2 separate regions of the Homo sapiens genome follow, and region 2 is linked to region 1. Evidence: fine-mapped expression QTL. A gene starts in region 1. The other region holds a variant in brackets. All regions are shown on one strand. Distances are between the middles of the regions. Region 1 holds the start of IL32 (interleukin 32). Region 2 holds the start of TRK-CTT5-1 (tRNA-Lys (anticodon CTT) 5-1).

The links. PIP is the estimated chance that this variant, and not a neighbour inherited with it, causes the effect.
Region 2: its variant is fine-mapped to the expression of IL32 in whole blood (INTERVAL, PIP above 0.99).

Annotation. Positions count from the first base shown.
Region 1 is chr16:3,061,033-3,076,168 of GRCh38, reverse strand. IL32 (interleukin 32) reads right to left here and starts at 10,529. Exons shown (of 7, transcript NM_001376923.1): 1 at 10,482-10,529; 2 at 10,343-10,385; 3 at 8,754-8,792; 4 at 8,556-8,615; 5 at 8,159-8,185; 6 at 7,930-7,989; 7 at 6,639-7,179. The coding sequence starts at 10,357. The coding sequence ends at 6,814. It also overlaps the pseudogene RNU1-125P and the pseudogene LOC107984896. RefSeq lists enhancers at 838-887, 1,008-1,097, 1,168-1,287, 7,868-8,387, 10,726-11,035 and a silencer at 1,468-1,651.
Region 2 is chr16:3,174,652-3,191,720 of GRCh38, reverse strand. TRK-CTT5-1 (tRNA-Lys (anticodon CTT) 5-1) reads left to right here and starts at 11,095; the gene lies at 11,095-11,167. It overlaps TRP-AGG2-7 (tRNA-Pro (anticodon AGG) 2-7), which reads left to right and starts at 9,015; the gene lies at 9,015-9,086. It overlaps TRP-TGG3-4 (tRNA-Pro (anticodon TGG) 3-4), which reads left to right and starts at 7,517; the gene lies at 7,517-7,588. It overlaps OR1F1 (olfactory receptor family 1 subfamily F member 1), which reads right to left and starts at 3,517. Exons shown (of 4, transcript NM_001370640.6): 1 at 3,242-3,517; 2 at 1,923-1,972; 3 at 384-483. It also overlaps TRK-CTT2-5, TRP-TGG3-5, TRP-AGG2-8 and TRK-CTT4-1. RefSeq lists silencers at 1,959-2,118, 7,266-7,325, 8,706-8,775, 15,963-16,062 and enhancers at 8,326-8,585, 9,156-9,265, 15,803-15,852, 15,776-16,287. The variant A/GA (reference allele first, on the strand shown) is at 7,510.

The sequences.
Region 1 (15,136 bases):
TGCGTGCCATTCTCTGCTGGCAGCCCCAGCCCTGGCAGCGTACCCTCCTCCCAGCTCCAGTCTATGGTCAGCAACCCCCGCCCATCTCCCCCATCTGCTGGGGATGTAGGTCCATGTCCTTGACCCAAGACCTTCCCTCATTCCTGCCCCCATCCCTCCTCAAGCCATATCCCTTACATCCCTTGAGTCCTCCATCCCCCCTCCCCCATCTCCCTGTCCACAGCCTCTGCCCCTCCTCTCCCTACCCTGTACCACCCCCACCCCAGGTCTTCCTCCATCTCCTTGGGAACACAGAGCTCCTCTAGCAGGCACTCTCAGAACACAGCCTGCCGGCCCCAGCGCCAGGCCTGGCTCCCAGCCTGTTCCCACCACAGCAGCCTCTTCCCTCCGGATTCAGCTCAGGCGCCAGGACCGGCAGGACCGAGACGCTTCCCATGTCAGCCCTGGCCAAAGCCCAGCTCCTTATCCATCGGTGAGCTGCCTGCCAGCTCCTGCTCCAGCTGCTGAGAGGCCTGAAGAGACCAAGACAGAGACATAGCCCTGCAGCACCACAGGGAGGCCCCAATTACCCCATGCGGATGAGTTTCATGGCCATCTCTAACTAAGGTCAGCACTGCTCAGGGCAGGTTCATAGGTAACGACCTGGTGAACTGAAAAGCAAATTTCTCTCGGTCCCTAAAACCACTAGCTGAGCATCTAAGCATGAAACATGAGTCCTAAGAGGGGTAGCAAACACGTTTTCATTCACTTCTCACCAAACCTGTCCCCTATGTCCATTTTACAGAGGAGGAAACTGAGGCACAGAGACTTCAAGGTAGATGGCCAGGTACCCTGGCTCTGCCAGCCTGCCGTTCAGCAGGGGCTTCAATGGTCTTGCTCAAATCACATGTGCGCTGATGAATGTCCTTGTTGACTGTAGGTTCTCTTGTTGCTCTGAGTCCTTTTTCTGAGAAACTGAAGTTTGGTGTTTTGATCACGGCCATATCATTCATCTCTCACCTTCTATCCTGCCTTGCATGTCTTTAACCACACTGAGCTTCCGGGCCCTGCACCCCTTCCTGCACCCTTGTCACACCATGCATCTGGGGGAAGTTACACAACCACAGCTGTGCAGACCCAGCCTCACGAGATTCTCAGAGGGCAGTCCACAGGGGCCCCAGCACCTCCTATCATCCTTGCCCCAGGCTTTGGCAGGCAGCTCCTGCACACTCCCCTCAGCCCCATGCCAGGCCCACAGCCCCTCAAGCTTTCATCCAGCCCCGGCCCCCAACTTTCTTTTCTGTCTCTTTTTTTTTTTTTTTTTGAGACGGTGTCTTCCTCTGTCACCCAGGCTGGAGTGCAATGGCGTGATCTCAGCTCACTGCAACCTCTGCCTCCCAGGTTCAAGTGATTCTCCTGCCTCAGCCTCCTGAGTATCTGGGATTACAGGCGCCCCACCAACACACCCAGCTAATTTTTGCATTTTTAGTAGGGACGGGATTTCACCATGTTGGCCAGGCTGGTCTCGAACTCCTGACCTCAGGTGACCCCCCCGCCTCAGCCTCCCAAAATGCTGGGATTACAGGTGTGAGCCACCGCGCCCGGCCCTCAGCCCTAACTTTCAAATGACAATTGTGTTTCCTGTTTCATCAGGACAGGACATCGATGTCATCTGTAACTTCCAGTGCACTGGGACACACAGCTGTATCTCCCCATGCTCGCCTCCTGCCCCTCCCGGTGTGAGGACTTAGCCTGGATCACCTCCTCCAGGACAAGAACGACCTACCGGCATCTATCCATCCAATCTCCCCACCCATCCATCACTGCCTCTGTGCATGCATCCTTCCAACCATTCATACACGCCTCTGTGCATGCATCTGTCTGTCTGTCCCTGCCTCTGTGCCTGCATCTGTCCATCCATCCCTGCCTCTGTGCCAGTATCTGTCCATCTATCCCTGCCTCTGTGTATGCATCTGTCTGTCCATCCATCCCTGCCTCTGTGCCTGCATCTGTCCCTCCGTCCATCCCTGCCTCTGTGCATGCATCCTTCTGTACATCCCTGCCTCTGTGCATTCATCTGTCTGTCCATCCCTGCCTCTGTGCATGCATCTATCCATCCATTCATCCTTGCCTCTGCCCATGCATCCGTCCATACATCCCTGCCTCTGTGCATGCATCTGTCCATCCATCCATCCCTGCCCCTGTGCATCCATCTATCCATTCATCCCTGCCTCTGTGTAGGCACCTGTCCATCCATCCCTACCTGTTTGCACTCATCTGTCTCTCCATTCCTGCCTCTGTGCATGCATCTGTCCATCCATCCATCCCTGCCTCTGTGCATGCATCTGTCCATCTATCCATCCCTCTCTCTGTGCATGCCTCTGTCCATCTATCCATCCCTGCCTCTGTGCATGCATCTGTCATGCTATCCAACCCTGCCTCTGTGCATGCATCTGTCAGTCTATCCATCCTCCATCCCTTTCTTTGTATCAGCTTATCCTGTGCTGAGTGCTCACAACTCCTTCATCCTAAGACGCTCATTGGACCTATTCCCTCCCCCGACTCCACGCCGCTCTCTGCCCTCCCTTCCTGGTCAAGTTCTCCAGCCAGTGGTCTCAACTCAATCTTCTCTTCCTCCGCTCCTCTCATGCCTAAGCCCACTGCCGCCTAAATTCTTCCCCAACCCACTGGGCCTACCGGCACTAAAAAGGTCACTTTGTCCCTGGATGACCAAACACAGGCCAATGTAACTTACTGGGCTTGTTTTGCCCCAGCCACAGCTGACCACTTCCTCCTTCACTCTTGTTGTTGATCACCTTTGGGCTTAGTCTTTCTCCATCTCTGTTGAGTCCTTCTCCCCTGCCACCTACTCCTTCATGCTGGGGTTCTCTGTAGCTCTGTACCTGACAGTCACGTTCCACCCTTTCCTCCCAGAAGCTCGCCAACCCCCGTGGACTGCTGGCTCTCAAGGCGGCCACTAGCCCAGCTCCGACAGCAGCTGACAATGCACAGTATGCGGCCCAGGGCAGGCCCTGTGCTGAGAGGCATGGGTGAATGGCTCATTTCATCGGCAAGCCCCCGCCACCAGCAGGCGCCGTTCTCCTCGCATTTCTCAGGGGAGGAACCTGAGACAATGAGGTTAAGGAAGTTGTTCATTACAAGTGGAAGAACCCTGACTTACTTGAATTCAACTTTGAAGCCCACATTCTCTTTTTCTGTGTGTGTGACAGGGTCTCACTTTGTCACCCAGGCCGCAGTGCAGTGGTGTGAACACAGCTCATTGCAGTCTCAACCTCCCTGACTCAAGCAATCCTCCTGCCTTAGCCTCCTGAGTAGCTGGGACTACAAGCATGTGCCACCACGCCCATCCGAAGCCCATATGTGAATGTTGAGGCACACAGCCTCCCCAGCCTCTGCCTTACCAAGCCCTCCACAGGGCCTAGGCACCCTCCCTGGCTGCCCCCTTCCCCCGTCACTCAGGCTCCCCAGCAGCCAATGTAGTTAATATGGGGCTGCAAAGAGCTGGGCCTGGCCTCAGGCGGGACGGCCTCCCCGGCATTGCCATCCCTGCTGCAGAGCTCCCATGCGATCAGCCTCCTCTCCAGCTGAGACCACATCCTCACTCAGCTTCTAGGCTGTTCCTGCTCCCCATTCCCCTCAGCACATGGCCCCTGAGAAACTGCTTGCACAAGAATTTCCCTCTGGAGCCCCACCTCTGGGGAACCTGACCTCAGACAGAGGAGACCAAGCTCTAGGGCAGGATCCTCCACCTCCCTTGCCCCACCCGTGTGGCCAGCCCAGAGCGCTGCAGACTCCCGCCCAGACCTGTACTCATGCCTGCCTTCTGCCAGCCTGCTCCTCCTCCTCCCACTCTCACACCTGCATTAACAGCACCAGGACACCATCCTCCAAGGGCCCCAGCCTCATCTCCCCTGTCACCAGGATCCAGCCAGATCTCAATCCTTGCCCATCCTAACTGAACCTCCCTCAGATCCGTCCACTGCCCCCTTCCCCAGGACCACACTCCACCATCTCTTGCCTGGACCCTGCGAGAACTTCCTGCCTCCCTGCCTCTATCCTACCCCCTGCCCCCTGCTGAAGCTGATGATAGTTCCGGAATGCAAAATGCCTTAATGATTCCCCCATTGATCAAAGTCTTCCACATGCTTTCAAGGCCCTTGGTGATCCGGGACCTGCCGCCTTCTGCAGTCTCCCTACTGATGCCATAGTTTTGGCTTCTGGCCTCAGATGTCCCGGGTTATTTCTCTGCTCAGTGTCTCCTCGTACCCCTGACTCAGCTGGCTCACTGCTTTCCCATTGGATCTCAACCCTGTGTACCTGGGGAGAGCAGAACCCTGTATGTCTTGTCTTGTGCTAGTAGGCGCTCAGCGTGTTTGTGCATGCATCTGTCCATCCATCCCTGCCTCTGTGCACGCATCTGTCCATCCATCCATAGCAGTGACCTATGATTGCACCACTGCACTGCAGCCTCAGCAACATAGCAAGAACCTGTCCCTTGTTTTTTTTGTTTGTTTGTTTGAGATGGAGTCTTGGTCCTTCACCAGGCTGGAGTACAGTGGCGCAATCTTGGCCCACTGTAACCTTGGACTCCCTGGTTCAAGTGGTTCTCCTGCCTCAACCTCCCAAGTAGCTGGGATTACAGGCGTGTGCCACCATGCCTAGCTAATTTTTGCATTTTTAGTCCAGATAGTGTTTCACCATGTTGGCCGGGATGGTCTCGACATCCTGACTTCGTGATCTGCCGGCCTCGGCCTCCCAAAGTGCTGGGATTACAGACATGAGCCACTGCACTCCGCCAGCAGTAGAAATTTCTAAGCACCAAAGCATTCAGCAAGTCACCTGTCTTTTCTTGAAAGCATACGGTTACATGCACTCACAAAGAGATGCTTTGGAATTAGAACTTATACTTAAAAGGGAAGCAGAGCATAAAAGATGGAAAATTTGCAGCCTGACCATGTGGTAGAAAAGAAAACCCATTTCCTGGGGATTAATTCAAGCTAGGCCTAGGGCCCCGCTGCTCTGTGCAGCCTCGGGACATGGCACCCTGTGCCCCAGCCACTCCAGCTCCAGCTGTGGCTAAAGAAGACCAAGGTACAGCTCAGGCCGTCGCTCCAGAAGGTGCAAGTCCCAAGCCTTGGCAGCTTCCACATGGTGTTGGGCCTGCAGGTCTGCAGAAGACAAGAGCTGGGCTTTGGGGGCCTCCGCCTAGATTTCAGGGGATGGATGGAAATGCCTGGATGACCACGCACAGGTTGTCATGGAGAACGGCTACTGGGGCAATGCAGAGAGGAAATGTGGGGTTGGAGCCCCCACACAGACTCTCTACTGGGGCACTGCCTAGTGGAGCTGTGAGAAGACCACTCTCCTCCAGACCCCAGAATGGTAGATCCACCAAGCGCTTGCTCTGTGTGCCTGGAAAAGCCGCAGGCACTCAGCACCAGCCCATGAAAGCAGCTGCGGGGGCTGCACCCTGCAGAGCCACAGGGGCGGAGCTGCCCCAGGCCCTGGGAACCCACCCCTTGCATCAGTGAGCCCTGGACATGAGACATGGAGCCAAAGAGATCGCTTGGGAGCTTTAAGATTTAATGACTGCCCTGGTGGATTTGGGTCTTGCCTGAGGCCTGTAGCCCCCTTTTTTGGCCAATTTCTCCAATTTGGAAAGGGAACATTTACCCAATGCCTGTACCCACAATGTGTCTTGGAAGTAACTAACTTGCTTTTGAATTTACAGGCTTATAGGCAGAAGAGACTTGCCTTGTCTCAGGTGAGACTTTGGATTGGCCTTTTGGGTTGATGTTGGAATGAGTTTAGACTTTGGGGGACTGTTGGGAAGGCATGATTGAGTTTTGAAATGTGAGAAGGACATGAGGTTTGGGAGGGTCCAGGGGCAGAATGAGATGATTTTCTCTGTGTCCTTACCCCAATCATCTCAAACTGTAATCCCCACATGTCGAGGGAGGGGCCGGGCTGGAGATGATTGCATCATGGGGGCGGTTTCCCCCATGCGCTTCTGGTGTAAGTGAGTGAGTTCTCACAAGATCTGGTGGGTTAAAAGTGTTTGGCAGCCGGGTGTGGTGGCTCATGCCTGTAATCCCAGCACTTTGGGAGGCCGAGGTGGGCGGATCACCTGAGGTCAGGAGTTCAAGACCAGCCTGGCCAACATGGTGAAGCCGCATCTGTACTAAAAATACAAAATTAGCCTGGTATGGTGGCGCATGCCTGTAACCCCAGCTACTCAGCAGGCTGAGGCAGGAGAATCACTTGAACCAGAGAGACAGAGGTTGCAGTGAGCCGAGATCACCCCATTGCACTCCAGCCTGGGCGACAAGAGCGAAACTCCATCTCAAATAAAAAAAACACACAAACACGCGGACAAAAGTGTTTGGTAGTTCCCCCCACCCTGCTTCTCCTGCTGCCATGTAGGACGTGCCTTGCTTCTCTTCCGCCTTCCCCCATGATTGTAAGCTTCCTCAGGCTTCCCCAGCCATGTGGAACTGTGAGTCAGTTAAACTTCTTTTCTTTATACATCACCCAGTCTCAGGCATTCTTTATAGCTGTGTGAAAACGGACTAATACGGCAACAGATCAGCCTTGCCCTGGGAAACCCACCTCCGCGATCATGGTATCTCCCCTGCCAGGGAAGTATAAGCAGGTTTTATTAAGATGCCAGGGCGACAGCACCAGGTCAGAGCTGCGGCAGGAACGCCAGGCAGGGGGACTGAGTGTGCGGGAGAGGGCGGGGCACAGGACAGCTGAGGGAGGGGTCAGGGTGGGTGCGCGGTGACGGGGAGGGCAAAGGTGGTGTCAGTATCTTCATTTTGAGGATTGGGGTTCAGAGCACTTCTGGGGTGTCAGCTCCTCCTTGTCCCCCCGTGGGGCTCCGTAGGACTGGAAAGAGGACATGAAGAGCTCTGACAGAGAGCAGCAGAAACTCTGGAACTGTTTCCAGAGGGCCTGCACTGCATGGACCAGGGCCACCACCTTCTCCTTCACCCAGGCCAGAACCCCGTGCCACCAGGTCTGCAGCCGCTGCAGCATGGCCTGGAACCATCTCATGACCTTGTCACAAAAGCTCTCCCCAGGCTCCTCGGTTGCGGGATCCTCAACATCCGGGACAGGGGATCTGTTGCCTCGGCACCGTAATCCATCTCTTTCTTTTTCAAGTAGAGGAGTGAGCTCCTGTGGAATGGGAGCACCATTCAGGGTCTGTAGGTGGGGGTGTCAGCCCCAGGCCCTGGCCACACCCAGGCCTCTCAGCCTTTTCCTGACCCTGGGAGACGGAGGCCCACAGGTGTTGGTTTCCCAACCACAGCCCCGTGGGCAAGAGGGACTTTTCCCAGAGTCCCCCTCCTCTGCATTCACCTCCATGGCAGTGACAGGATGGGTGTGTCTGCTTGGTCACCAGGTCAGGGCCCTCATCGTGCCTTGAGGGCTGTGCCACTGTGTGAGGAGTGAGGCCATGGGCAGGTCCCAGCTAGGCTGTCACTCCCAGCCCTCCACCCCAAGCTCAGGGGCTGGGCACACCCTGCCCACACCACATCAAGACAGGGCAGGGGTTGGCTGGGCCCGGTGGCTCATGCCTGTAATCTCAGCACTTTGGGAGGCCAAGGCAGACGGAACACAAGGTTAGGAGTTCAAGACCAGCCTGGCAAACATGGTGAAACCTGGTCTCTACTAAAAACACACACAAAAAAAATCAGCCTGGAGTGGTGGCGGGTGCCTGTAGTCCCAACTACTTGTCAGGCTGAGGCAGGAGAATCACTTAAACCCGAGATTTGGAGGTTGCAGTGAGCCAAGATCATGCCACTGCACTCCAGCCTGGGCGACAGAGCGAGACTCTGTCTCAAATAAACAAAAAGAAAGAAAGAAAGAAAAGACAGGGCAGAGGTGAAGGAAGGCAAGGTGCCCAGATGGGTGTGTCATACTCACTGGGTGCTGCTCCTCATAATAAGCCGCCACTGTCTCCAGGTAGCCCTCTTTGAAGTCGTCCTGGGGAGAGGAGGGCACAGGGGGTTCATGCTGCTCCTGCCTGCCCCCTTCCCACTGTGGCCCCCACTGGTCCAGGTGATTCCCAAGGGGACCCGGGGCCCAGACCCAGTGTCCTGTGGAGCCTAAGACCCAGGGACTAAGCTTGGTGGAGGGGGAGGCCACGGCTCACCTCCAGCTCTGCCAGGCTCGACATCACCTGTTAGGAACAAAGCACTCGGTTCCAGGCCCAAGCCTCCTCTGCACCCCACATCAGTCAGTCCTCAAGCCCAGTGAGTCCTCAGCTCCCACACACCCCGAACTGGGCCCAGCCAGGGGCCCGGGCCACGTCTGGCACCCCTGTTGTTTCCTCAAGGAGCCCTGGGGCTTGGATGCCTCCCTCAGTCTCCCCGGGCGTCCAGATCCCCCACCCGCCCACTCACTGCCACCCAGGTGCAAGCATTTGCCCACGGTAAGGGGTGAGGGAGCCTGTGGGTCCCTCTTCATCCTTCTCACCCTGAGCCCCACACAGGGTGGAGTGCCTGGGGGCGGGGACATGTGACCTGGTGCCTGAGGGGAAATCCACCCACCTGTCCACGTCCTGATTCTGCATTTTGCATTTTATCATAAAATCTTTCTATGGCCTGGTGCTGTGAAGAGAGGCAGAGTTGGCACCAAAGGGCCGGATCCTTGTCCCTCCAGGGTCCCAGGTGTCCCACAGTGTCCTCAGTGTCACACGCTGAGACCCAGGCCCCCAACCCCTGAGCAGAAGTAGGGAGGAGCATTACCATTCGGGCCTTCAGCTTCTTCATGTCATCAGAGAGGACCTGCGGAAATAACGGTGACACTCAGTCTCCATGTGTCACCTTAACCTTTCCTCCAGGATAATTTATACACACACACACACACACACACACACACACACACACACAGAGACACATGGCAGAGGTACAGGATAAGAGGAGACAGCAGTCCCAGGAGCCCCTCACAGCCTGGAAAGACCGGCCAGGGCTGTCCTCGAAACGACTCAGAAAGCGCTTCTCTCAGGAGCCGGCTCAGCTGGGCAGGCCCAAGAGCAGGGCCAGCATGGGCCTAGGTGACCCCTCCTCACAAGAGCAGGGCCTGCGTGGGCCTAGGTGACCCCTCCTCACAAGAGCAGGGCCTGCGTGGGCCTAGGTGACCCCTCCTCACAAGAGCAGGGCCTGCGTGGGCCTAGGTGACCCCTCCTCACAAGAGCAGGGCCTGCGTGGGCCTAGGTGACCCCTCCTCACAAGAGCAGGGCCTGCGTGGGCCGGGGTGTCCTCCCTGCACACACACACCCCCCCATGTACACACACGGGAGGATGGACACTGTCCTGGAGCAGGCTGGCTCAGCTGGGTTTCCCACAACCACTATGGTCCCAGGTGAGAGTTGGCCAAGGAAAAAATGTTTAGGGACATGACAATTGAGAAGGTAACAGCAGCCATTCCTCTCTGATGAGCTGATTAATATTTGGGGTGCCAGGTAGGTCCACCCTACAACCTGCCACTCTTCCCGACTGCCAACATGCAGACCCACAGGTCCCGGGCCATTCCTGCCTGCAGACACGTGGCTGCATCCACAGAGGCCAGAGGCACCCCACAGAATCCCCGCTGAGCCCCCACGTCAAGGGCCTAGTCTCGGGGGTGACATGCCTGGTTTCCCCCACTATAGAGTGGTGACAGTCACCCACAGAGTGCGCAGGGCCTGGGGACATATTCTGGGCAGGGCAGCTGTCTGCACACTTTCAGGCAGCGATGGTCCCATCCCGCTAGCCTGATTTCCCAGGAACCAGGGTGAAAGCAGCACCGTGCCGACATGCGGGAGCCATGTGTCCTCCGGGTCACTGTCCTGAACCTGAGCCAGGCCACATCATGGAAACCCCTATTGTCACAGGCCGAAGAGCTCCCTGGAGGGTGTGGTGGGCCTAGCATTTGCGGTGGGGCAGTGGTAGAGGATGGGAGGTCGGAGGGAACCCAGGAAAGGAGGAAGAGACACCAGGACCCACACAGGCCTTGCTCTTGGGCCCACCCAGCTGAGCCGGCCTCTGAGAGAAGCATTCTCCGAGTCGTTTCCAGCAGAGCCCTGCCCCACCCCTGCCCCGGGCTTTCCGGGCTGTGAAGGGCTCCTGGGACAGGTGCTCCCTCTCATCCACACCCCTGCCGTTCTCCAGCGCCCCCGACACATATGACCTCCAGCGCCTCCACTGACACTCTCACCCCATCACTATCCTCCTGCCGCTGGGTGCCCCTGACTGAGCCCTGACACACAGGCACCTCGGGAAATACTGAGGGCACCCGCACCCTTACGGTCTGTTTTCAGACATGCCCACAAAAGCACACGCAGCCTCTCACTCACCTTCGGGAAGCACATGGCGGCCAAAAGTTCAAGGAGCCAAGGCCTGCTGGCGAGGAACAGGTGTGAGGAAAAGAAAGTGTCTCAGAGAAGCACCCTCCTCCCCAGAGGGTCCTCACCTTCGGGGACCCCAACTCCCCACCTGAGATGACCCAGCTCCACTGAGACAGTCACCTTCTGCACGCAGTCTTCCTGGCACAAATACTCAGCTGGTTTTATGGGGAAAGTGGGGGGTAGTGGGCGGAGCCTCTCTCAGGGCAGGAGGCCTTGCTGAGTGCGTGAAAAACAGACAGAGACAGAGACAGAGACAGAGACAGACAGAGATGGAGACTTACCCGAGAGAGACAGAGGTCTGGGGTCCCTGGGAGGAATGAGGGTCCGTCCCTGGCTGGGCCCCTGCTCCCTCTGAGCTGGGGTGGGAGTCTCTGAGCCCAGGAATGGGCTGCTTTCCCCACCCCACCAGCCTGAGAGTGGGGAGGGGCAGAGGGAAAGTCCAGACTCGGGACAGCTGGCTGGGGAAACTCCCTGAGTACAGGAAGGTGACGTCAGCCAAGTGGGATCCAAGGACAAAGGAATTTGGACCCTGTCCTTGCATGAGGTGTGCCCCGGCTCCAGAGGCCAGAGAAACTTCTGGATCAGAAGGAGGCAGGAACTGCCGGACCTAAGAGGGGCGCCGTGAGGGCAGGGGCCTGTGCACGTTGGAGGGGTGGCTAGTGGTGATGTAGATCTACCTGTGGGACAAGATAGGACCCTCTGCAGGGTGGAAGGCATCCTGCCGGCTGTCTGAGCTTGGCTGACCAGGTCCTTCTGACCCTTCTGGGCCAAGGCAAGGCCATCTGGGGCCGAAGGTCACTGGTCTCAGCAATCTTGGGGCTCCCCTACGGGCTCTTCTAGCTCCACGGGTTCTGACCCTCCAGCCTGGCTGGGCCTCCCACCTCCTCCTCACGGCCCCCAGCCCCCTTCCCCCAGCTGAGCACAACCACGCCCTTGCCTTTGGGATGGTTTCCTGGGGCCAAACTAAGGAAGTACCACGACAAGGGGCCCTAAGTCGAAGACGTCTCTTCCCTCACGATCTGCAGGCTGGAGGTCCAAGGTCAATGTGGGCAGCGTGGGGTCCTTCTGAGGGCCCGGAGCTGGGATTCTGTTCAGGTTTCTCCTGCCCTTGTAGATGGCCATCTTCATCTTCATCACGTTCTGCCTGGGTGTGACTGTCCCCCTTTCCCCTTTCCAAAGGACACCAGTCATATTGAAATAGGGTCCACCCTAGGCCGGGCGCAGTGGGTCACGCCTGTAATCCCAACACTTTGGGAGGCCGAGGCGGGCAGATCACCTAAGGTCAGGAGTTCTAGACCAGCCTGGCCAACATGGTGAAACCTTGTCTCTACTAAAAATACAAAAATTAGCCTTGCGTGGTGGCCGGCACCTGTATTCCCAGCTACTCGGGAGGCTGAGGCAGGAGAATCACTTGAACCCGGGAGGCGAATGTTGCAGTGAGCTGAGATGGTGCCACTGCACTCCAGTCTGGGGGACAACAATGAAAATTCCCCTCGGAAAAAAAAAAAAAAGAAGTAGGATCCACCCCAGTGACCTCATTGTACCTTAAGTACCTCCATAAAGACCCTGTTTCCAAATAAGGGCATATTCTGAGGTCCTGGGGCTTAGGAATTCAGCATGGATGCAATGTATCCCATTATATTCTCAAAGGGGACTCGGAGAGACAGAACCTATAAAACACGCTCCATGGAGAAATCTTCCCTTGGGTGAAGTAGACAACGGTTGTCACCTGCCTGCCACTTAGGAGTCCATTCCACTGTGCGCAACCGCCTTTCCACATACAGGATGTCCAGATCTTTCCCTGAGTATCCTCTGAATTGTAGTGGGAGACAGAAGGAAGCCACTCCTGCACCAGCTAAAAGTCATGCTTTAGGCTTCAGCTCCAACCCTAGCCCCTCATGACTCTCAAAGGCCACCATCTGAAGACATCTTGGGATCCACCCAGACTGTATGTACCCTGTTTTTATAGCTTTATGGTGATGCAATTTACAGGCAATGCAATTCACTCATTGAGCTGTACAATTCAAAGCACAGAACTGTGCAGCTATCACCACAACCCATTTTAGAACATTTTTATCACCTCTAAGAGAAATTCTGCCCTTCTGAGACATCACTGCCAGTCCTCATTTCCCTGGATAACCACTCATCTACTTTTTCTTTTTCTTTTTTTTTCTTAGAGTCTCGCTCTGTTGTCTAGGCTGAAGGGCAGTGGCACGATCTCGGCTCACTGCAACCTCTGCCTCCTGGGTTCAAGCAATTCTCCTGACTCAGCCTCCCGAGTAGCTGGGATTACAGGCACGTGCCACCACACCCAGCTAATTTTTGTATTTTTAGTAGAGACGGGGTTTCACCATGTTGATGAAGGAGTCTCGAACTCCTGACCTCAAGTGATCTGCCCGCCTTGGCCTCCCAAAGTGCTGGGATTACAGGCATGAGCCACTGTGTCTGGCCTCATCTACTTTCTCTCTCAATGGATGCCTCTCTCCCAGACATTTCCTATAAGTAGAATTATACACTAGGTGATCTTCTGTGTCTAGCTTCTTTCACTGAACATGCTATTCTTGAGGTTCATCCGTGTTGTAACACGCATTATTCCTTCATTCCTTTTTCTGGCTGAATAATATTCTACTGTGTGGATAGACCACATTTGGTTTCTCCATTCACCCCTCGAAGGACATTTGGGTTCTTTCCACTTTTTGGCTAATTCCGAATAATGCTGCTATGAACATTCACGTACAAGTTTCTGTGCAGACGTATGTTTTCACTTCATATGTATGAAGCAGAAGAATAGCTGGGTTACATGGTAAATGTGTTTTTATCCTTTTGAGGAACAGCCAGACTATTTTTCAAAATGTCTGTCATTTTACATTCCCAGCAGCAGTGTGCGAGGGTTCCCGTGTCTCTACAACCTCAGCAATACTTGTTATTCTCTGTGTCTTTTCAATTCCAGCCATCCCAATGGGCTGAAATGGTATCACGTGACAATTTTTTTTTTTTTTTTTTTTGAGGTGGAGTCTTGTTCTGCCACTCAGCCTGGCCTAATTTCTGTATTTTTAGGAGAGATGGGATTTCACCATGTTGGCCAAGGAGTCTCGAACTCCTGACCTCAAGTGATCTGCCCGCCTTGGCCTCCCAAAATGCTGAGATTACTGGCATGAGCCACTGCGTCTGGGCTTATCTACTTTCTCTCTCAATGGATGCATCTCTCCCAGAGATTTCTTATAAGTAGAATTATACACTACGTGATCTTCTGTGTCTAGCTTCTTTCACGGAACATGCTGTTCTTGAGGTTCATCTGTGTTGTAACACGGATCAGTCCTTCATTCCTTCTTCTGGCTGAATGATATTCTACTGTGTGGATAGACCACATTTGGTTTCTCCATTCACCCCTCAAAGGAAGTTGGGGTTCTTTCCCCTTTTTTGCTATTCTGAATAACGCTGCTGTGAACATTCACGCAAAAGTTTCTGTGCAGACTTATGTTTTCACTTCTCTTGGATACGTATGAAGGAGAAGAATAGCTGGGTTACATGGCAAATGTGTTTTTATCCTTCTGAGGAACAGCCAGACTATGTTTCAAATTGTCTGTCATTTTACATTCCCAGCAGCAGTGCCCGGGGGTTCCTGTTTCTCCACATCCCCAGATACATTTGTTATGCTCTGTGTCTTTTTAATTCTAGCCATCTTAGTGCGCTGAAATGGTACCATGTGACAATTTTTGTGTTTCTTTTTTTTTTTTATTTGATGCAATCTCGCTTGGTCTCCCAGGCTGGTGTGCAGAGGCACGATCTCGGCTCACTGCAACCTCCAACTTCTGGGTTCAAGCGATTTTCCTGCCTCAGCCTCTCAAGTAGCTGGGATTACAGGCATGCGCCACCACGCCTGGCTAATTTTTGTATTTTTAGTAGAGACAGGGTTTCACCATGTTGGCCAGTTGGTCTAAAACTCTCAAACTCAAGTGACATCTGCCTCTCAAACGTCTGCATCAGCCTCCCGAAATGCGGGATTACAGGCATAAGCAACCGTGCCCAGCCAATTTTATTTTTATTTTTATTTTTTTGAGACACACCTGTTGCCCAGGGTGGAGTGCAGTGGCGTGATCATGGCTCATTGTTGCCAAGACTTCCCGGCTTCAGGTGATTCTCTCCTCTTCGCCTTCCAAGTAGCTGGGAATACAGACACGGGTTGCCACCATGCCCGGCTAATTTTTTGATTATTTTGTAGAGACAAGGTCTCACTATGTTGCCCAGGCTGGTCTTGAAACCCTGCGATCAAGCCATCCTCCCACTTTGGCCTCCCAAACTATTCGGATTATAGGCGTGAGCCACTGTGCCCAGCCTCTTTCCAACTTTCTGGATGATGTCCTTTGAAGCACAAAAGTTTTACATTTTGATTATGAGACCATGCCATTTTTAAACGATACCACTTAAAAAATAAAAATAATCACTTTGACATGACATTTTTGTGTAGCAGTCATAAAATTTTAAAGGCTCTGGAAGTCTACATGGAGCCATGAGGCAGTCTCAATTCCACAGTGGCCGTCCGTCCTCCGGGTGCCCCATAACCAACTTTTCGATTCCTCTCTACTTCGTCCTCCCACTCTTCTTTCTTCTTATTATTATTATTTTTATTTTTATTTTTGAGACGGAGTCTCGCTCTTTTGGCCAGGCTGGAGTGCAATCGTGAGATCTTGGCTCACTGCAACCTCCCTCTCCCGGGTTCAAGTGATTATCCTGTCCCAGCCT
Region 2 (17,069 bases), 110 kb before region 1:
ACTGACAATCCTTGCTGCTGGGAGCGCGCGGAGACCAAAATTCAATCATTGAGGGGATACCATCACAGAGCGCGATGTGGCACCTGGTAGTGTTCATTAAATGCTGGCTGTTTCCAGAACTCCAAGGTAGCAAGGAAGAAAACAAGTCGCCCAACGTGGGGCTCGAACCCACGACCCTGAGATTAAGAGTCCCATGCTCTACCGACTGAGCTAGCCGGGCTTCCCTGGGAACGTTTTATGTCTAGTAATTGGCGGGGTGGCATGAGAATAGTAGAAACTAAGTGACGTAATGAATCAGCCCCAGAAACCAGGGCACACTGGGGGTCCCCTACAACAGGTTCAGTTCCACCCCGACATCCCCGCTGGTGCAAGACTTTGCTCACCGCTCTGCGATCTCCCATAAATGGAGATGACCCGCCAGAGGCTCCTTCCGCAGGGCGCTGGCATAAATCTGTATTCTCTGCCGTCCGCTGAAATGTCCTCCTTTCAGAAAGAGAAAAAACATACCCACACTGCACGCACCTAAAAGAGTCAACGACAACCTCTTTTTGGAGGCCACTCGAATTACAGGAACAGGAGAGTTCTGCTGTGTATCGGGCAAATTAACCCATCTTTGGAGCTGCAGACAGAATGTCTGAAGCTCACTGGGAGCTCACAGAAGTCCTCGCAGGTGTCGCTCCGCACTGTAACCTACTGTGACGTGCATGTAGCTGTTCCGTTTCCATTACTGTGTGCTTTTATATCTAGAACTATTTGGTTGTTTTTTCAATCTAGAAGGTTCAAAGGAGAGCATTTTACATAGGTCCCGTTGTCAAAGATATTTTCTTTATTGCCTTTCCTAAGGATAATTGTATTACAGACTTCCCAATAGTCTGCATCCAAAATGTTTGCAATTTTGTTTCTGTTGCCTACTGTTGATGACTTGTTGTTCATGATACCTTGTTTTGCGGTCTTTTTTTTTTTTTTTTTTTAGATAGAGTCTTACCTTGTCACCCAGGCTGGAGTGCACTGGCGCCATTTCAGCTCACTGCAACCCCCATCTCCGGGGTTCAAGCGATTCTCCTGCCTCATCCTTCCTAGTACCTGGGATTACAGGCGCCCGCCACCATGACCGACTAATTTTTGTATTTTCAGTAGAGACAGGGTTTTACCATGTTGGCCAGGATGGTCTCAATCTCCTGACATCAGGTGATTAACCTGCCTCAGCCTCCCAAAGTGCTGGGATTGCAGGCGTGAGCCCTGCCTCCCTGCCTCCTTGTGCTGGGTCCATTTTCCTTGTAAATTTCTTTGATTCTTGATTCATAGCACGTTCTCAAACCCAGCGTCCCAAACAAAAATGAAGTCCCTGCCAATAGAATCTGTCCTCAGAGTAGACCAGAGGAGGCCCCAGTCCTGGTGGGCGCTGGGACTCAGGACGGGGTACCCGGGTTCCAGGGTTCAGTCCGTACTCCTTCCAAAACCAGGACAGGGGAGCAGAGGAGCCCCAAGAGGCTACACGCAGGTGAGGAGTGACGGGATGTGGGGAGGGAGAGGTCTCTGGACCCCAGACGCAAACACCCATAGCCTATCTCCACTGCTCGAGTGCCTGGCTCACTCTCTCATTAAGACTGCGACTGCTAGAACCGGGGATAGTGGGTGGGAGTCCCAGGCTGGACCTTTTAAGGCGTCTGACTGTGAAGATTCGGCTCTTATTGTATATAGGGACTTGTCTCTTCTTCGGTGCCTCGAGTTTGCACTGCCAGAAGTAACAAAAAACAAAACAAAACAAAACAAAAACCACCAAAAACCAAACAAACGACAAAAAAAATAGCTTGTCAAAAGGGCTCTGGCAACACTGGTGACAGGACTCTAGATGAATTTTAAGAAGAGGTAGTGGGATAGTAGGCGGCGTCAACATAGCTTGAGACCTTTGTACAAATTACCTTTGCAGGGCGTCCACGTCCTGCGCTGAGGTCTGTAAGTCGAGCCGAATCTAAAAAAGAGCAGGAAACGACTTTTACCCTGCACCAAAAGCCGGGCTCGTCCGGGATTTGAACCCGGGACCTCTCGCACCCTAAGCGAGAATCATACCCCTAGACCAACGAGCCACACGATTTACGCATTAAGGTTATCTTTGTGGGCGTCCTAGCATCCTGGGGGCGGCTGGGGCGGACCCAGCAGGACCCAGTGAGTAGAATCTTATTTCAGACCCGCCTGGAAGGGGCAATTTCAAGTGAGGATGGGTGTGGCGGAAGCCCAGAGCCCCGGCCCCTCCTCCGCGACGCACAAAATGGGGAGCAGCCCTGGCGCTACCACAATCCAGAAGGGCCCTGGGTCCTCGCCCGCCACCGCCACTCGGCCTTGAGTTGGGGATTCGGCGTCTCCGAGGCGCGCAGTGAGGAGCTCCAGCTTCCGCAGGACATGGGAACCTCCCAATAGCAGGCAGCGGCTGCGCTGAGGGTCTGCGAGCCTCGATCACTGCAAGCTCGCCTTGGAAACGCTGCAGTCCCTCAGCGTGGCACCAATGGGTGTTCAATAAAGGCCTGACGGAGTGCACGAGACACCAGCTACCAGGCACCCTACCTCGCCGCACCTCACGCTTCTCCGGCTCCGGTCCTCCCTTCTCCCCAGGGAAGCCAAAACCCAGAAAGCGAGTTTCCCACGTGGGCCTCGAACCCTAAAGGCTGACGCTGAGAGTCTCTTTTCTCCATCGACTGAACCAGCCCCGCAGCGCCTGCCTGGCCTCAAGTGCCCAGGATGGCTGAGCTCTCGGAGAAGACGGCTTAGGCCACCAACTACGCTGCGCACCAGGGGCGATTCTGCGATGCGCCCCCTTGCCCTTCACTGGGGGGAGCTGGCGGGACCTCCAGTCCCCAGGACGTGAGGAGGAGCAAGAATGAAGGCCGTGGGGCAGCAGGCGTCGGGCATCGGTTCCGGGGCACCCTTTACTGTCACTCTGCCCTTCCCTGTATCCAGATTTCACCTGACTCCCGAGAATCCAGCAGATCTGGGCTAAAAGGGGCTCCCTGTCCCCTCCAGATCAAAGCCGCGAATTCCCTCGCTCTCAGTGGGAAGGCCCCGGGGTCTGGGGGTGGGGACAAGGGCCGAGACCCCCACCCCGCCAGGGCCGACTGAAGTGCTGCCCGCGGATGCCCGGTCTTCCCCGCCTCCCTCCTCTCACTCACTCCCCTCCCTTCTCCCCCGCTTCCGGTATTCTCCCCTTCTCCGAATAAACTGGAATTTTAAGCGGAGGAGGGCTCACCTGGGACTGGAGCAGCCATACTCTGGAATCCTAGAAAAAATTTATGCCCCTGTAGCGACCAATGAGCCCGGCGCATTCTTCCTTATTCTAAATAACCTCCTCCTGCTGCACGGGGTCGTCTCCTTTAACCGCAGTTGCCGCAGTTGGCAGCGCTGGATCCCATTTCACCAAGGCGAGCGATTCAGGCCCGTCCGTCTGCGTCCCGGGACCCCGGGAGGTCTCCACTGAGGCCCTGCCAATAGCAGCCTCCCTCCGCCTTCCTAGTCTCCTGTCCTTGCTGAAAATGCGAAATGGGAAAAAAGAGAAGGAAAAGGGGGCTCGTCCGGGATTTGAACCCGGGACCTCTCGCACCCAAAGCGAGAATCATACCCCTAGACCAACGAGCCGCCGCTTCCTTTTTTCTTTTTTCTTTTTTTTTTTTTTTTTTTCCTTTTTCTGGTGGGGGACACGTCCTTCCGTCCCTGACGCAGAGCGAGACTCTCTCCATCGCCCCAATAGCTCAGTCCTTAGCGCGCGCACCTGCGAATCTTGACTTGTGGGTTCGCGGCCACCCTCAGATTTCCGAGGCAGGCTTTACTCCTGCTGGGTAAACCAACAAGGTTACCCGCTGAGGTTATGAGCTGGTGGTTTCAATGTCGTGCTGGTATGATATATAGGTGCATTTGCCTATTACTAAGGTAAAAGGATTTCCAGGCAGGATAGAGATGTCAGAAATCATAAAGGAAATACACAGATTTTATCCAAGGTTTTAAAACGGCAAATGATAATCCAAAGAAAATACAATCGAAGTTACAAACTAAGGGCTTATTACTGGGCTACATAGATTTCGAATCCTTTAAAAAATTACATAGGCATATTTTTAAAAGACATTTAAGAAAAGAAATGAAGATCTATGACAAAAAAGGCTTCGTCTTCCTCACCTGGGACTATGGAGCATAAACGCTGCTTGCCGCAGCCTCTCTGGCTGGCAAGTGTAGCCTCGGGCTGGCCCTAAGGGCCATAGGTGGAAAACAACTGAGCCTTGAAGTGGAGACTGGAGAAAAAGAGATTGTCCTAGAGCTTGCATGGGAAGAGTTTCGGGACCCAGAAACTGGAAACATTGGATTTCCGTGACAAAGTTTGCCAAGTAGCAGTACATGGTGCAATGGGTGTGTCTGGAGGCTGGCGTGAGGCGTAAAAGGCAGCTGGGCCCGCTGCTTCAGTGACTTCCTTGAGACTCAAAGGAAGCCAAGGAGAACCCTGTCTACTCACCTGCAGGCATCTCTCCCGGTGTCTTATGTATTGTCTGCTCTGGAAGTCACAGAAAAGTGAAGGAGGCTGGGCGCGGTACCTCCCGCCGGTATTCCCAGCACTTTGGGAGGCCAAGGCGGGTGATCACTTGAAGCCAGGAATGCGAAACCAGCCTGGCCAACATGCCAGACCGCTGTCTCTACTAAAAATACAAAAATCAGCCTGGTATGGTGGCGCGTGCCTGTAGTCCCAGCTACTCAGGAAGCTGAGGCACGAGAATCGCTTGAACCCGGGAGATGGAGTTTAGAGTGAGCCCAGACTGCGCCACTGCCCTTCAGCCTGACAGGGTGAGACCCTGTCTAAAAAAAAAGAAAGAAAGAAAAAAAAAAAGGAAACAGAATAGAGTCCAACTGCTCATTCTCGTCAGTTACTGAATAGGGACTAGACTCTGCTGGTTTCCATGAACTAACTCATGCTGTTTTCTTTCTTTCTTTTTTTGAGACGGAGTTTTGCTCTTTTTCCCCGGGCTGGAGTGCAATGGGGTGATCTTGGCTCACCGCAACCTCTGCCTCCTGGGTTCAAGAGATTCTCCTGCCTCAGCCTCCCAAGTAGTTGGGATTACAGGCGTGTGCCACCATGCCAGGCTAATTGTTGTATTTTTAGTAGAGACGGGGTTTCTCTGTTTTGGTCAGGCTGGTGTCAAACTCCTGACCTCAGGTGATCCGCCTGCCTCAGCCTCCCAAAGTGCTGGGATTACAGGCGTGAGCCATTGCACCCAGCCTCATGTTGTTTTCAGCAGATGCACGAGGAGTACACCATTATCTTCATGTCTACAGATGACACAACTGGAGCCCTGGAAAGGTTAAGGAATTAGTTCAAGTTCACACAGCCAGGAAGTGCCCTGGAAAGTCTGGCTAGAGAACCACGTAAACAGCTGTCTTTGCACACCAACAGGTAATTCACAGAAAAAGGAAAGCAAACACACACACACATACACACACACACACAGATGGCCAATAAACATGAAAAACCACTCACCTCACTAGCAAAGTTTCTTTCCCCACTTTCTGAACTGCCCGCTGCATCAATTCCATTCTAGGCCTAGTTTATCTCATAGCCTTACCACAGAAGCCAGTGGGGAATAGCTATATGTCTGAATTCTCCAATTTTGGCATATGCTTTGACTCAGTATATTGATAATTGAGATATACTACACATACCATAAAATTCACTAAAGTGTGTAATTGAGTGGTTTTTATATATTCATGTGATTGTGCAACAGTCACTACTATCTAGTTCTAGAATGTTTTCATCAGCCCAAAACAGATGCAGTACCCATTAGCAGTCCTCCCTGTTCCTCCCTCCTCCAATCTTCTGGCAACCACTAGTATGCTTTCTGTCTCCACGCATTTGCCTGTTCTCTACATTTGATATAAATGGAATTATACAATAGCAGTCTTTCATGTCTGGCTTCTCTCACTTAACATAATGTATTCAAGGTTCATCCTTGTTGCATATGTCAATAATTCATTCCTAATTATGACAGAATAATATTTAGTATTATTGAATAATACTGTATTAGTTTGCTAGGGTCGCCATAACAGTACCATAGGCTGAGTGGATGAAATAACAGAAATTTATTTTCTCACTATTCTGGAGGCTGGAGTCTGAGACTAAGTATGGGCAGGGTTGGTTGGTGCTGAGACCTCCTTCCTTGGCTTGGGGACAGCCATCTTCTCCCTGGGCCTTCATACCATCTTCCCTTTGTGTATGCCTCTATCCAAGATCCAAATTATTATTATTATTATAATTTTGAGACAGGGTTTGTTACCCAGGCTGGAGGACAGTGGCATGAACATGGCTCACTGCAAGCCTCCACCTCCAGGGCTCAAGAGATCCTCCTACTTCAGCCTCCTGAGTAGCTGGGACTATGGGTGATTGCCACCACACTCAACTAACTTTTTTTTTTTTTTTTTTTTTTTGAGACGGAGTTTTGCTCTGTCGCCTAGGCTGGAATGCAGTGGCATGATCTTGGCTCACTGCAACCTCCGCCTCTCAGGTTCAAGCAATTCTCCTGCCTCAGTCTCCTGAGTAGCTGGGATTACAGCTGTTTGCCACCAGGTCTGGCTGATTTTCATATTTTTGTAGAGATGGGGTTTCACCATATTGGCCAGGCTGCTCTGGAACTCCTGACCTCAGGTTATCTGCCCACCTCGGCCTCCCAAAGTGCTGGGATTACAGTAGTGAGCCGCCATGTCTTGTCGACTAATTTTTTTATTTTTATTTTTTTGTACGAACGAGGTCTCACTATGTTGCCCAGGCTGGTCTCAAACTCACACCTGTAATCCCAGCACTTTGGGAGGCCGAGGTGGGTAGATCACTTGAGGTCAGGAGTTCAAAACCAGCCTGGCCAACATGGTGAGACCCCCGTCTCTACTAAAAATACAAAAATCAGCTGGGCGTGGTGACTCAAGCCTGTAGTTCCAGCTACTCGGGAGGCTGAGGCAGGAGAATTGCTTGAACCCAGGAGGCGGAGGTTGCAGTGAGCCGAGATTGTGCCACTGCACTCCAGCCTGGGCAACAAGAGCGAAACTGTGTCTCAAAACAAAACAAAACAAAACAAAACTATGAAGCCCGGTAATAAGCCCTTGATTTGTCATTCAGATTGTATTTTCTTTGGATTGTCATTTGCCGTTTTAAAAACTTGGGTAAAATCTGTACATTTCCTTTGTGATTTCTGACATCACTATCCTGCCTGGAAATCCTTTTACCTTAGTGATAGGCAAATGCACTTATATTTCATATCAGGACGACATTGAAACCACCAGCTCATAACCTCAACGGATAACCTGGTTGGTTTATCCAGCAGCAGTAAAGCCTGCCTCGCAAATCTGAGGGTGGCCGCGAACCCAAAAGCCCAGATTCGCAGGTGCGCGCGCTAAGGACTGAGCTATTGGGGCGATGGAGAGAGTCTCGCTCTGCGTCAGGGGCGGAAGGACGTGTCAAAAAACAACAACAACAACAACAAAACAGAGGGG[A/GA]AGCGGCGGCTCGTTGGTCTAGGGGTATGATTCTCGCTTTGGGTGCGAGAGGTCCCGGGTTCAAATCCCGGACGAGCCCCCTTTTCCTTCTCTTTTTTCCCATTTCGCATTTTCAGCAAGGACAGGAGACTAGGAAGGCGGAGGGAGCCTGCTGCTGGCAGGGCGTCAGTGGAGACCTCCCGGGGTCCCGGGACGCAGACGGACGGGCCTGAATCGTTCGCCTTGCGGTCGGTCCTATCACCCTGAAATGGGATCCAGCATCCCATCACCCTGAAATGGGATCCAGCACTACCAACTGCGGTAGCCGTGGTTAAAGGAGACGACCCCGTGCAGCAGGAAGAAGTTATTTAGAATAAGGAAGAATGCGCCGGGCTTGTTTATTTACGGGCATAAATTTTTCGTAGGGTTCGACGGTATGGCGGCTCCAGTCTCAGGTGAGCCCTACCCTAGCTTAAAATTGCATGGTATTGCGGGGAGTAATGTATGTGGCGGGGTGTCAGAGGGAGGGGAATGAGGGAGAGACGAAGGAGGGGCGAAGGCCGGGGCTCAGCTGGCAGCACTTTAGTGGGCCCTGGCGGGGTGGGGGTCTCGGGCCCCGTCTCCACGCCCAGACCCCGAGGCCTTCCCACTGAGCCAGGAAATTCGAGGCTTGGATCCGGAGGGGATGGGGAGACGTTTTCAGTCCAGACCTGCCGAATTCTCGGGCTCCGGGTGAAATTTGGACACAGAGAAGGACAGAGTGACAGTAAAAGGTGCCCCGGAACCGACACCTGGACGCGGCCTCTGCTGCCCCAAGCGGCCTCTGCTTCCCCACGTCCTGGTGACCGGAGGTTCCGCCAGTTCCCCCAGTGAAAGGGAAGGGGGTACATCGCTGACTCCGGCGGGCGCCGCGGGTCTGGTGGAGCGAAGCGACGCTCAGTGTCAGCCTCTTGAATTGAGGTTCCACGTGGGAAGCTCACCTTCTGGGTTTTGGCTTCCCTGGGGGAGAAGAGAGGACCGGAGCGGGAGAAGCGTGGGGCGCGTCGAGGTAGGGGGCCTGGTGGCTGGTTCCTGGTGCACTGGCGAGGCCTCTACTGACCACCCATCTGCACCACGCCGCCGGGCTGCAGCGTTTCCAAGGCGGGCGTCCAGTGGTCGCGGTTCGCGGACCCTCCGCGCAGCCGCTGCCAGCTCTTGAGAGGTTCCCATGTCCCGCCGGAGCTGGAGCTCCTCACTACGCGACGCGGCGTGACGCGCGGATCCCCAGCCCAGGGCTGAGAGGCGGAGGCGGGCGAGGGCCCGGGGGGCCCCGGATTGTGGGGGCACAGGGGATGCTCCCCATTTTGTGCGGCGCAGGGAGAAGCGGGGGCTCAGGGCTCCCTCCGCGTCCACCCGCGCTTGAACTTGTCTCTTCCAGACTTCAGGAAATCGGAGTCTCCTCCTAGCTCTGCTCTGCTGGGTCCCCACCTCTGGCCACGAGGACTCCACGAAGGCCACAAAGACAAGCCGGAGGCTACGGGGCGTGTGGCTCGTTGGTCTAGGGGTATGATTCTCGCTTAGGGTGCGAGAGGTCCCGGGTTCAAATCCCGGACGAGCCCGGTTTTTGGTCCAAAATATCGGTTTCTACCCTTTCCTACTTTAGATGAAGATCAGAGATCCAGACAGCTCTGACAGGTCAGCGCAGCCCGAGTCCTTCGAAGTTAGTTTGTTTGTTTGTTTTGAGACAGAGTCTCTGTCGCCCCGGCTGGAGTGCAGTGGTGCTATCTCACCTCACTGCAACCTCCGCCTCCTGGGTTCAAGCAATTCTCCTGCCTCAGTCTCCCAGGTAGCTGGGACTACAGGCACGTGCCACCATGTCTGGCTAATTTTTGTACTTTTTTTTTAGTAGAGACAGGGTTTCGCCATGTTGGCCAGGCTGGTCTCCAACTCCTTACTTCAGGTGATCAGCCCGCCTCGGCCTCCCAAAGTGCTAGGATTACAGGCGTCAGCCACCGCGCTCAGACTTCGAAGTTAATTTGTACAAAGATCTAAAGCTGTCTGACACCACCCACTGCCACATTTAAAATTTATTTGGAGTTTTCTCACCACTGTCGTCAGAGCCCTATTCCCTAATATTTTTGTTTGATATTTTGCTATTTTTGTTTTCTGCTTTTATTATTATTTTTATTTATGAGCTACTTTTGTCAGTAGGAATTCATTCGAGGCACTGAAGAAGAGATAAGTCCTTCCTATATACAGTAAGAGCCGAGTCTTCACTGTCAGACACCTTAAAAGCTCTACACTGGGATTCCCACCCAGTGTCCCTGGCTCCGGCGGCTAGAGCCTTAAGGAGAGAAAGCCGGGCACTTGAGCAGAGGAGATGGGCTATGGGCGTTTGTATCTGGGGTCTAGAGTCCTCTCCCTCCCCACATCCCGACACTCCTCACCTGCGTGTAGCCTTCTGGGGCTCCTCTCCTCCCCTATCCTAGTTCTGGAAGGGGTACAGACTGAACCCAGGAACCCGGGTATCTGCGTCCTGAGTCCCAGCGCCCACCAGGACTGGGGCCTCCTCACATCTACTCTGAGGACAGAATCTATTGGCAGAGTCTTCCTTTTTGTTTGGGATGCTGGGTTTGAGAACATGCCGGGAACCAAGAGTCGTGACTAATCCAATTTTGAGCGCTTGAGGACCAAGTGGAAAGAAACTCAAGCAGATTTAAAGTGACCAATGTCTGGTTATGCCCTTGAGCCCCTGCAGAAGCAAACAATAATTTTGTGTGTGTGTGGACAAATACATTTGTATTCCAGATCTCACAGAATTTCCTACACAAAGAAATTTGCAAGGAAAATGGACATTGCACCCTAAAAATTAACAAGGAAAGAAGGTACCAGGAGCAACAACTCATTAACAGGAACAGAAACAATATTGCAAATATTTCAGATGCAAAGTGTATCCGACTTATAATACAACTGTCCCTACTGTGTCTAAAGAAATGAAAGGCAATAAAGAAAATATCTTTGACATCAGGACCTCCAACCTTCTTGATTGAAAAAAGAACCAAATAGTTCTAGATATAGAAGCACACGGTAATGGAAAGGGAACAACTAGATGCACGCCACAGTAGGTTACAGTGCGGAGCAGCACCTGCGAGGGCTTCTGTGAGTCCCAGTGAGCTTTGGGCTTTCTGTCTGCAGCTGCAAGGATGGCCCATACACAGCAGAACTCTCCTGTCCCTGTAACTCAAGTGGCCTCAAAAAAAAAAAAAAAAAAAAAAAAAGGGTTGCCAAGGTTGTCATTGACTCTTTAAGTGCGTGCAGTCGCAGTCTGAGAATGTTTTTTCTCTTTCTGAAAGAAGGCCTTTTCAGAGGAGGGCACGGACTGGGAGAACACAGATATATGCCGGCGCGGTGACGAAGGAGACTCTGGCAGGTCACCCCCATTTATGGGAGATTGCGGGGTGGTGAGGGAAATCCTGCACTAGCGGGGACGTCGGTGGCGAACTGAGTCTGTTGTGGGGGACCCCAAGCGCGCCCTGGTTTCCCGGGGTGATTCATTACCTCCCTTTGTTTCCACCACCCTTAGGCCACTCGGCCCATTTGTAGATATGGAAAAGATCCTATAAGGAAGCCCGGCTAGCTCAGTCGATAGAGCATGAGACTCTTAATCTCAGGGTCGTGGGTTCGAGCCGCACGTTGGGCGTGCCTTTTGCTGTACCATGAAGGTACATCTTTTTCTCCCAGCTTTCTGCCCCTGGCAATGCAAGACTTGGTGAAAGAAGAAACTCAAGCAGAAGATTTAAAGTGACCAATGTCTGGTTATGCCCTCCCCTGCTTATTCCAGAAAGCCATCCTGGCTCCTGCCCCATGGATGCGGTTCCTACCTGGAAGACCAGGAGAACAGTAATTCCTCGCTCCTTGATAGCAGAGGCCCTGGGGAAGACCCCCACTAGGGTTTTCCTTTTCTGGGATCCCAACAGGGCTGTCCTCATTAAAACAGAAGAAAGTCTGAGAACCTTAGCTTGTACAGGATTGGACTCTCTTGTACCCTAAGCAACAATCATAGCCTGGACAAGGAGCCACCTACAAAACCTTTCTCTGCTTATCTCCCATCGTCCTTATGCCTGGCTCCACCCTTGTCCAGCAACACTGCCCAGATGCTGATCCCCAGGGGGTCATGTCAGGTAGAGTTTGACTCAGGTCCCATCAAGTAGAGGGGGATAGAGATCCCAATGTTCACTAGTTTGACAGTCCCAGTGTCTGGCTTTCCTGCCTTCCTCTCTGATTAGAGGCCTCCAGCCCAGGGAGGTGGGTGCCGGATCCTCCCAGAAGTGCCCAGTGCAGCCGGAGGGAGCAGCTGTGGTCTCCTGAGTTACCCAACCTCCCTCCACCCGGACCCTCTGGGTGCATACAAGATTTCACTGGATCTCTGCTTGTACGGCCAGCGTGGTGCTGCTGGTACCTGCTTGCAGAGTTGTGAGGCTGGTGACGGTGACCCAGGGGGCAGAGATTAGGATGTTCAACATTAGCAGTAGACGTAGCTAATGCTTATTAGGCTCACCATGCCTAACACTCTTGTAAGCTCTTTACTTATCTAAACTCGTTTAATCTTCACTACTATACTCTTATTATTGCATTTTCAGACAAAATTGAGGAGCTGGGATGGAAACATGGAAACCCAGTCAACCTGCCACAGAATGTGCCCTCCCAACCCCAGCAGGTCAGGGAAGCGGACGGCAGGGAAGAGAAGGTCTGCTTGACTTGGTGTCGGCATTCCTGGGGCAGTGAGGTTTATTGACTGATTGATTTACTGATTGAGATGAGTCTCGCTCTGTCACGCAGGCTGGAGTGTGGTGATGGGATATCCGCTCACTGCAACCTCTGCCTCCCGGGTTCAAGGAATTCTCCTGCTCAGCCTCCCTTGAGTAGCTATGATTGCAGGAACGCGCCACCACGGCCGGCTAATTTTTGTATGTTTTTAGTAGACATGGGGTTTCACCATGTTGGCCAGGCTGGTCTCGAACTCCTGGCCTCAGGTGATCTGCCTGCCTCTGCCTCCTAAAGTGCTGGGATTACAGGCGAGAGCCACCGCGCCCGGCCGGTTTATCAGAATAGTTTTTTTTTTTTTTTTTTTTTTTTTGAGATGGAGTTTTGCTCTTGTTGCCCAGGCTGGAGTGCAATAGCACCTTCCTGGCTCACCACAACCTCCGCCTCCCGGGTTGAAGCGATTTTCCTGCCTTCACCTCCCAAGTAGCTGGGATTACAGGCATGCACCACCACGCCCGGCTAATTTTGTATTTTTAGTACAGATGCAGTTTCTCCGTGTTGGTCAGGTTGGTCGCAAACTCTCGACCTCCAGGTGATCTGCCTGCCTTGGTCTCCCAAAGCGCTGGGATTACAGGTGTGAGCCACCTCACTCAGCCTATTTAGGATAGTTTATAATGAAAAATACATTGGCACAACTCCTCGGGTGTGCTCCTTAATGCTGCTGCAAGGAACACCACTCAAAATCCAGACCTGGCCTTCTGAGATAGGTCAAGCTGTAAGGTCACTTGGAGCCCACTGAGGAAAGTGGCACTGGGCCGGGCACAGTGGCTCAAGGCTGTAATCCCAGCACTTTGGGAGGCCGAGGTGGGTGGATCGTCTGAGATCAGGAGTTCGAGACCAGCCTGGGCAACATGGTGAAACCCCGTCTCCACTAAAAATACAAAAATTAGGCAGGCATGGTGGCAGGCGCCTGTAATACCAGCTACTTGGGAGGCTGAGGCAGGAGAATCGCTTGAACCCAGGAGGCAGAGGTTGCAGTGAAGCAAGATCATGCCATTGCACTCCAGCCTGGGTGACAAGAACGAGACTGCGTTTCAAGAAAGGAAGGAAGGAAGGAAGGAAGGAAGGAAGGAAGGAAGGAAGGAAAAGAAAGAGGCACTGATCAGTAGGCCTGCTTTTCTATTTTGCTTTTTCTGAAATTTTGAGATAGAGTCTCACTTTGTCACCCAGGCTGGAGTGCAGTGATGCAGTCACAGCTTACTGTAGCCTCGACCTTCTGGGCTCGAGTAGTCCTTCCACTTCAGCCTCTCAGGTAGCTGAGACTACAGGCTGAGCCACAATTCTTGGCAATTTATTTTTTGTAGTAGCAGTAGCAATAGTAGAGATGGGGTCCCTCTTGGTTGCCCAGCCTGGTCTTGAACTCCTGGGCTCAAGTAATCCTCCCTTCTCAGACTACCCAAGTTCTGGGATTATAGGAATGTGCCGTCAAGCCTGATTCAGGCATGCTTTTCACATAAGGCGTAAGAGATCTCAGGTTCTAGTCCTGAATAAGCCCAAAGTTTTTTCCTTCTAAAATCACTAACATTCTAGGTTAGGGGCTTGGTCCCTTCCGTTCCTGTGGTCCTGAGGAGCAACTGTGGGGAGTAAAGGTGGGGAAGCCAGTGCCCTCCAGTTTCCCTGCAGGGCTTGCAAGGGATTGGGGATCGAGTCCTGGAGACTCTATAGGTAAAGAGGAAAAATCTTGGAGGACAGCGAGAGTCGGTGTGAAGGATCAAGAATTGCCGGTTGTAGGCCCGGCACGGTGGTTCACACCTGTAATCCCAACACTTCAGGAGACGGAGGTGGGCGAATCACTTGAGGTCAGGAGTTTGTTATATACAAAGTTTCGGTGCCGCAAAAGAAATAGCCCGAAAATATAAAATTTTGTTTTTAATTCTCAGCAAGGCAAGGTACTTCTATAGAAGGGTGCGCCCTTACAGATGGAGCAATGGTGAGAGCACACTTGGACAAGGGAGGGGAAGGGGTTCTTATCCCTTTCGCACGTGGCCCCTGCTGCTGTGTCATTCCCCTATTGGCTAGGGTTAGACCGCACAGGCTAAACTAATTGCCATTGGATAATTTAAAGAGAGTGACGGAGCGAATGGTTTGGCGGGAAAAATGGTTATTACAGAGCAGGTAATCGAAAGAGTCAGGGTGGAGTAGGTAATTGAAAAAGGTTGCTTTATGAGGAAGTTAAGTTTAAAAGTAGAAGGTAAAGAATTGAACATACTGACATATTGAATCTTTGAAAAGAAATTTGGAACTCATATCTAACAAGTTGGAGACCAGCCTGGCCAACATGGTGAAACCTCGTCTCTACTAAAAATACAAAAAGTAGCTCGGTGTGATGGCACGTGCCTGTTCCCAGCTACACGGGAGGCTGAGGCAGGAGAATCGCTTAACCCTGGGAGGCAGAGGCTGCAGTGAGCCGAGATCGCGCCACTGCACTCCAGCTTGGGCAACAGAGTGAGACTCCATTTAAAAAAAAAAAAAAGTGTACAATTTGGTAAGTTTTGGCAGTCCGTCACTCTCTGCTTTCTGTCACTGTATTATTTTGCATTTTCTAGAGTTTTACACACATGGGATCATCATTATATAACATTATTTTTTATGACATTATCCTCCATTTTGGATTTATGATAATTTCATTTAATCTATGCCCTATTTTGGGGCAAGTAGATTGTTTCCATTTGTTTTTTGTTGTGTTTTGTTTTGTTTTTTGAGACGGAGTCTCGCTCTGTTGCCCAGGCTGCTGTGCAGTGGCGCGCGATCTCGGCTCACTGCAACCTTCACCTTCCGGGTTCAAGCGATTTTTCTGCCTCAGCCTCTCCAGTAGCTGGGACTACAGGCGCGCACCATCACGCCCAGCTGATTTTTGTGGTTTTGGTACAGACGAAGTTTTACCATGCCAGGCTGGTCTCGAACTCCCGACCTCGTGATCCACCCACCTTGACTTCCCAAAGTACTGGGATTACAGGCGTGAGCCACCGCGCCCAGCCTGTTTCCTGGTTTTTAAGTATAATCTCAGAATAAATATTTTTTGATGCAAAATATCTATGTAAATCTATTACTACTTTTCTAGGACACGAGCCCTCAGTCAGGCTGGTGGGAATATAAAATAATCCAGCCACTGTGAATAATAGCCTCAAAATGTTAAACACAGAACTACCAAATGACCCCAAAATTCCATTCCTAAGTGGAATTCCACTCCTATGCTCAAGGAAATTTAAGACATATGTTCATACTAAACCATGTACACAATGTTCACTTTAATGAGCTGAGTTGTGACTGTCCACCATCCATATGTTGAAGTTCTAACTCTCAGTCCCTCAGAATGTGGCTGTATTTGGAGACTGGGTATTTAAAGAGGTAATTAAGACAAAATGAGGTTATTAGGATGGGCCTTAATCCAATATGACTGGAGTCCTTACAAGAAGAGGAAATTCAGGGCAGGCGCGGTGGCTCACGTCTTTAATCCCAGCACTTTGGGAGGCTGAGTCAGGTAGATCACCTGAGGTCAGGAGTAGTGAAACCCCACTCCAGGATGGTTTCCTGGGATGAGCAGGCATCTGCTTTCACCAAATCTTGCATCGCCAGGGGCAGATGGCTGAGAGAAGAAAATTGACCCAGTTGGAACAGAAACTCACAATGCTATCCTTGCGGGTGAGGCTCGCAGTAAAAAGGAATCGCCCAACGTGGGGCTCGAACCCACGACCCTGAGATTAAGAGTCTCATGCTCTACCGACTGAGCTAGCCGGGCGACACGCCAACGTTACCTTAGTGGATTTCTAGATTACAGCAGAGTCCAGGACCAGGAGTCTTCAGTGTCGGGACTACACTGTAGAACACAGTTGCTCCGCAGTAAGCGTTGCCCTCAGGCCTGCCCCAAAGGCGAGGCGCAGCAGGAGGCCCCCGAGGTAGCTGGATCTGGGTCTTTCTCTGCGTCAGAGGCCCACCCGCGGACGCCCCACAGGCCGGCACCTCCTGAGTGTCAGGGTGACTGGCCCTGGCACCCGCCCCGACTCAGGGCTGTGGAAGCGGGTCTGACCCGTGGATTCCTCGTTCACACGAAATACCTTTGCTGAGCCCCGACTTCGAGCCCAGCCAGATCCCATGGAGGCAGCAGACCCTGGGCATCCAGCCCCGTTGGAGGGTGTGGCACAGAGCCGCAGCTGCCAAACTGGAGCAAGAAATTGTTGTGACTCCTGCCCAAAGGATGGGGGTGGGGGTGGGGAAGAGGGAGGGACTGCAGGAACTGCGAGGCACCCCGGAAAGAAAACCGTGTCCCCACCAGGGGGAGGTGGGCTGGGGTGGGCTGGGTTGCAGGGGGCCGGGAGAAGGTGGGAGGCGGCCGGCAGTGACGGCGGGAAGCAGACAGGAAACCTCCGTGACCCAGCGGCCTCCTGCGCTGGGTTCCTTGCCTCGCGTCCCACCTGGGCAGGTGACGGTTTCCCGTTCCTTTCTAGGACCCTTAGCCTTTGCCGCTGCTGTTCGGCTGAAGAAGAATTCCCTAGCCAGGTTCGGTGGCTCACGCCTGTGATCCCAGTACTTTGGAAGGCCGAGGGGGTAGGATCGCTTGAGCCCAGGGGTTGGGGACCAGCCTGGGCAATATAGCGAGACACCCGTCTCTACAAAAAATAAAAATTTAAACATTAGACGGGCGTGGTGGCGCGCGCCTGGAGTCCCAGTTACTCGGGAAGCTGAGGCTGCAGTGAGCTATGATTGCACCATCGCACTCCAGCTTCGGCAACAGGGCAAGACCCTGTCTCAGAAAAAATAAAAATTAAAAAAAAAAAAAA